Regions from separate parts of the Homo sapiens genome. Here region 2 is linked to region 1. Evidence: fine-mapped expression QTL. A gene starts in region 1. The other region holds a variant in brackets. All regions are shown on one strand. Distances are between the middles of the regions.

Region 1 (2,907 bases):
CCTCCCGGGTTCAAGCGATTCTCCCGCCTCAGCCTCCCGAGTAGCTGGGATTACAGGCACCGCCATAGTGCCCAGCTAATTGTAGGAACGGGGTTTCACCATGTTGGCTAGGCTGGTCTTGAACTCCCGACCTCAGGCGATCTGCCCGCCTCGGCCCCCCAAAGTGCTGGGATTACAGGCGTGAGCCACCGCGCCAGGCCCGTAAAATGAAATTTTAACCATAGATTCTAAATTGCGTATTCACAGAGTAACTGAGACGATTGCAACTTATTTAAAACTATGTGTAAATCATCTTGAAACAAGTTAATGAGAAAGATCACATGATTAAAACAATAAAAAATGTTGCTTGAGGAATAATGCACAGACGGAATTTAGAAAAAAGGAAAGCCAGAACAACTGCAGACGGTTCTTTTCGCTTTTGTATAGGACTGAGCTCCTCTTCCGGACAAAAACCAGGAATAAGGGAGGTCTTCTTAGTAAAAGCAAAAGTAAATTGTCTTAAAAAAAAAAAAAAGGTTGCAAGTGATTTGGTCTTTCCAGAAAAGTCAATACCATGTCTAACAGTGGTCTCTACTACAATAACCTGAAGGTGCTAATGACCCTCACAGTAAAATAAGCTAGCAAATGGCCACACCGTAGAGCGCCTACATTTACTGCCAATTAAGTCCAACTGCCGCTGTCTTAATATTTTCGCTTTTTAATGAATCCTCTCTCTAGGTATTCCGATCCATCCACCGGTAACACGCTGATACTTCGAAATACTGCAGGCAGGAGTGGACGGGGGAGAAGCCCCCCCCCTCCCCGGGCTTCTTTCGTGTTCGGGCCTCTGCTGCCGCGATCCACGGAAGCAAGAATGAGTTCCATCGCTTGGGGCTCACCAGCTAGAGGGCTGGCGGAGGCTGCGAGGGGCAGAAGTAGCAGCAGGCTACTGGGTGGGCAAGCGGTGTGTACCGCAGCTGTGGAGGACATCGACGCGGAACGCCCGGATTGAGCTCAGAACACACCGGCCCCGCCCGGGACTCATTCTACAAGCTTCTTCGGAAGAGGCGCCCGCCCGGGAGGAAGGGTCTAACCCCGGGCTCCACCGGGAGGAGATAAACTACTCACTGTCAATGTCCTCGATGAGGCTGGCGGTGCCAGGCATATAGTTCATTTTGAACTGAAATAATGCTGCAATGCACAGCGGCGGGAGGCCAGCGCGTCCAAAACCTCTTCCCTCCTACCGCAGTCGCCGCCTCGGTGGGACCAAGCCCGGAATCCCGACCGAGACCAGCACTTCTGCCCCGGCTTTCAGCCGCCGGGGGCTGCCGGAAGCTCCTCCATATTACCCTTACCCACTTCCTGTAACACGTGTGGGCCCCCAGGAAGAGGCGGGGCAGCCGTACCGTTGGGGGACACCCTTTCCCTGTTCCTGTTAAGTAGGTAAGAGGAAACTCCATTGGATAAATGGCGAGGAAACGTATACTCCCTCTTAAGGAACACGGTGTCTTCCTTCGTCTCCGGGTTCCCGAGACCCCAGAGTCACTGACCTCCGTCCCTCAGCTTTCGGGGTTCGGCAGCAGAAGGGGCGGGCCCGGGCCTGGGATTGGCTGGCGTCGTCCGACCCCCTTCGCTGCTCTCCATTCGCAATCGCCCGCGGGCGCCTGCGCGATGGGTCGGCCGTGGGGAGCGGGGCGGGAAGCGCTTCAGGGCAGCGGATCCCATGTCGGCCCTGAGGCGCTCGGGCTACGGCCCCAGTGACGGTCCGTCCTACGGCCGCTACTACGGGCCTGGGGGTGGAGATGTGCCGGTACACCCACCTCCACCCTTATATCCTCTTCGCCCTGAACCTCCCCAGCCTCCCATTTCCTGGCGGGTGCGCGGGGGCGGCCCGGCGGAGACCACCTGGCTGGGAGAAGGCGGAGGAGGCGATGGCTACTATCCCTCGGGAGGCGCCTGGCCAGAGCCTGGTCGAGCCGGAGGAAGCCACCAGGTAAGCTTTGCACCCTCTGTCCTTGCGGGGAGGTGAGGGCCCTTGGGGCTGGGGTTCGTAAAGGATCGGGTTTCATACTTGTTTTCCTTATGTGGAGGAGGGTGTGTTGCGGGGGGTGTTGGAGAGACCGAGACTAAGATCAGAGGTTGGGGGGACATGCTTGTGTTCCCTTTGCCCCTCCTTTTCTGCTTCGACCCCAAAAAATATGTTTATTACCATTTAAAAAAGAAAGATCCTGCGCGGACTTACTAAGCTTAGCAGCAGGCTGCAGATCTCTCTCCTGGGAGCGGTGCTGGGTAGGGGTGGCACGGATCTACTGCTCCAGCTCTAGCAATTTATCCTGCGTGGCTGGCAGGCCGGCTCTCCCGGGGAAGGGAAGTGGCTGCAGCCCCCGATGCCGCTCAGGGACCCTCCCGAGGGGAAGGAACCTTTGCGAGGAGGAGGGATCTGGGCATTTAGCTGTTTGCCCCTAATGCCTTGCCTGAGATCGAATCATGAATAATCAGTGTTGTAAAGTACCTTTACGCGGATTGACTGATTTAATTTTCACGGCGACTGCAAGGTAAAATGGCATTACAGCGGCCCTTTTTTTTGTTTTCGAATAAGGAACCGGGGCTCTGCGAGGTTAACTCACTTGCCTAATACACTTGGACCTGCAACATTTTATTCTCCGTTTTCCTGCCGGACATATACTTCTGCTTTGTTAATACAGTCTTCTGGGTAGTGGGTTGTCGTTCTGCGGTGGCAGCATACCTCTCTGTTCGTTCAAGAATTATCCTCATTTGTTGAAAATGTAATAGTGAAATTCTCGTACATTGCTGGTGGGGATGTAAAATGGTGGAAAATAGTTTGGTAGTTCCTCAAAACATTAAGCATTAGAATTAGTCTATGACCCAGCAAGCCCACTCCTGGCTATATACCCAAGAAAACTGATA
Region 2 (2,907 bases), 220 kb after region 1:
AAGAGCCGGGTGTGATGGCTCACACCTGTAATCCCAGCACTTTGGGAGGCCAAGGCAGGCAGATCACTTGAGGTCAGCAGTTCGAGACCAGTCTTGCCAACATGGTGAAACCCCGTCTCTACTAAAAATATAAAGATTAGCCAGGTGTGGTGGCAGGCACCTGTATTCCCAGATACTCGGGAGGCTGAGGCAGGAGAATCATTTGAACCCAGGAGGCGGAGGTTGCAGTGAGTCAAGATCGCGTCACTGCACTCCAGCCTGGGCAACAGAGTGAGACTCTGTCTCAGAAAAAAAAAAAAAAAAAAAAAGAACCAAGACAAATTTTTTATTTTTGTTTTTTTGTTTTTTGTTTTTTGTTTTTTTGTGAGACAGAGTCTTGCTCTGTCACCAGGCTGGAGTGCAGTGGCGCAATCTTGGCTCACTGCAGCCTCCGCCTCCTGGGTTCAAGCAATTCTCCTGCCTCAGCCTCCCGAGTAGCTGGGACTACAGGTGCACTCCACCACGCCCAGCTAATTTTTGTATTTTTGGTAGAGATGGGGTTTCACCATGTTGGCCAGGATGGTCTAGATCTCTTGACCTCGTGATCCACCTTCCTCAGCCTCCCAAAGTGCTGGGATTACAGGCATGAGCCAGCGTGCCTGGCGACAAATTTTTTTTGCTTTTGTTTTTGGTTTTGTTTTTGGCATGTTCTAAAATAATGAATATTGCATATGCATTTAATTCTATAGCTGTTGAGAACTTGTGTTGATTTCTTCCACATGAGCCTAGGAGGTCATGGCTGCAGTGAGCCGTGATCATGCCACTGTACTCCAGCCTGGGTGACAGAGTGAGACTCCTCCTGTCTCAAAAAAAAAAAAAAAAACAAAAAAAAAAACCAAAAAACTGAAAGAATGGAAAAAGACATCTCTTTGCCAGTAACTTTCTTTGCCAGTATCTGTCATATTTTTATTTTATTTTATTTTAGTTTTTTTTTTTTTTTTTTTTTTTAGACAAGTCTCGCTTTGTCGCCAGGCTGGAGTGCAGTGGCACGATCTTGGCTTATTGCAACCTCTGCCTCCCAGGTTCAAGTGATTCTCCTGCCTCAGCCTCCCGAGTAGCTGGGACTACAGGCACGTGCCACCACGCCCAGCTAATTTTTGTATTTTTAGTAGAGATGGGGTTTCACCAAGTTGGCCAGGATGGTCTCGATCTCTTGATCCGCCCGCCTTGGCCTCCCAAAGTGCTGGGATTACAGGCGTGAGCCACTGTGCCTGGCCCATATTTTTATTCTCAAACAATCTGATATGGTAGTTTAACTGCAAACTGTGGGCTGTTGCAATACCAGAAGCTAGAGACCCTTAATTGGG[G/A]TGCCCAATTCTAATTTTTTTTTTTTTGAGACGGTGTCTTGTTCTGTTGCCCAGGCTGGAGTGCAGTGGCATAGTCTTGTCTCACTGCAACCTTCACCTCCTGGGTTCAAGCGATTCTCCTGCCTCAGCCTCCCTAGTAGCTGGGATTACAGGTGCATGACACCACACCCGGCTAATTTTTGTATTTTTAGTAGAGACAGGGTTTCACCATGTTGGCCAGGCTGGTCTTGAACTCCTGACCTCAGGTGATCCACCTGCCTTGGCCTCGCAAAGCGCTGGGATTACAGGCATGAGCCATCGCGGCCAGCCCAATGTTCTAGAAGAATTTAGGTGAAGGGTATTTCAGCTGTAAGTTCCTCTCATTTGAGGGGTTCAAAGACACTGCATAGGCAAGGCGGTATTATGTGACTGGTTAATTCCTACAGTGACCATCAAATGTTTCTTTGAAACAATATTCCTTGGCCAGGCATGGTGGCTCATGCCTGTAATTCCAGTACTTAGGGAGGCCAAGGCAGGCGGATCACTTGAGGTCAGGAGTTTGAGATTATCCTGGCCAATGTGGTGAAAACCCGACTCTACTAAAAATACAAAAATTAGCTGGGCATGGTGGCCTGTGCCTGTAATCCTAGCTACTTAGAAGGCTGAGGCAGGAGAATCGCTTGAGCCCAGATGGCGTAGGTTGTAGTGAGCCGAGATTGCACCACTGCACTCCAGCCTGGGCAATGGGAGTGGAAAAAAAAAAAAGCTGTTTTATTTTGACCAGATGTACTATCTATTTCTTTAATAATATGTGCTTTATGATAGTGTGTGCTTTGTAATAGTATGTACTTAACTCAGAGGATGTTGCTTTTTATTCCAGATTCCCTAGCCATTTTGTCCATCCTACCTGCTCTTCTTATTCCCCATCATGTGCATTTCTTCACTTGCCAGATTCCCATTTAAATAAGACATGTATGAAGAACTATGAGAGCAAGAAGTACTCGGATCCTAGTCAGCCAGGCAATACAGTACTTCACCCAGGAACTAGACTAATACAAAAGCTACACACATCCACTTGCTGGCTGCAAGAAGTTCCTGGCAAACCTCAGCTGGAGCAAGCCACAAAACATCCACAGGTGACAAGCCCTCAGGCCACAAAAGAAACTGGCATGGAGATTAAAGAAGGCAAACAATCTTATAGACAAAAAATCATGGATGAACTAAAATATTATTACAATGGATTCTACTTACTTTGGATTGACGCCAAAGTTGCTGCCAGAATGGTTTGGAGGCTGTTGCATGGACAGGTCCTGACCAGACGAGAGAGACGAAGGGTAGGCAAGAATCATATTTGAGAAAGAAAATGTGAAATTAAAATGAACTATTTGGGAACTCAACTATTTAAATTCAACGTAAACTTCATCTTAAAAATCCCAGAGTAGGAATAATAACTGCTGGTGAGAACCAGTTTCTTGTCTGCAACCGACTTACTGTACAACTTTAGTCAGTATTCTGAAATTTGTTATATATTTTCCTGTATAACGGTTTTTAAAAAAAACTTTTATTTTAGGTTCAGGGGTAC

Which allele goes with the higher level. Alleles are on the strand shown, and positions count from the first base shown. SD is a standard deviation of normalised expression in the study named.
With allele G in place of A in region 2, the expression in atrial appendage of the gene that starts at base 1,688 in region 1 is higher (small effect, 0.29 SD a copy in GTEx).

The links. PIP is the estimated chance that this variant, and not a neighbour inherited with it, causes the effect. A credible set is the group of variants that fine-mapping cannot tell apart.
Region 2: its variant is the best candidate, but not a certain one, in a credible set for the expression of BAG4 in atrial appendage (GTEx, PIP 0.81).

The regions. Positions count from the first base shown.
Region 1 is chr8:38,175,168-38,178,074 of GRCh38, forward strand. It overlaps BAG4 (BAG cochaperone 4), which reads left to right and starts at 1,688. Exons shown (of 5, transcript NM_004874.4): 1 at 1,688-1,972. The coding sequence starts at 1,703. It overlaps LSM1 (LSM1 homolog, mRNA degradation associated), which reads right to left and starts at 1,326. Exons shown (of 4, transcript NM_014462.3): 1 at 1,108-1,326. The coding sequence starts at 1,153. RefSeq lists enhancers at 294-1,151, 731-820, 1,152-2,009, 1,231-1,380, 2,291-2,630.
Region 2 is chr8:38,390,337-38,393,243 of GRCh38, forward strand. It overlaps LETM2 (leucine zipper and EF-hand containing transmembrane protein 2), which reads left to right. Exons shown (of 11, transcript NM_001286819.2): 3 at 2,206-2,659. Among named protein-coding and RNA genes, the nearest start is that of LETM2, 5.3 kb to the left of the region's middle. RefSeq lists an enhancer at 426-927. The variant G/A (reference allele first, on the strand shown) is at 1,347.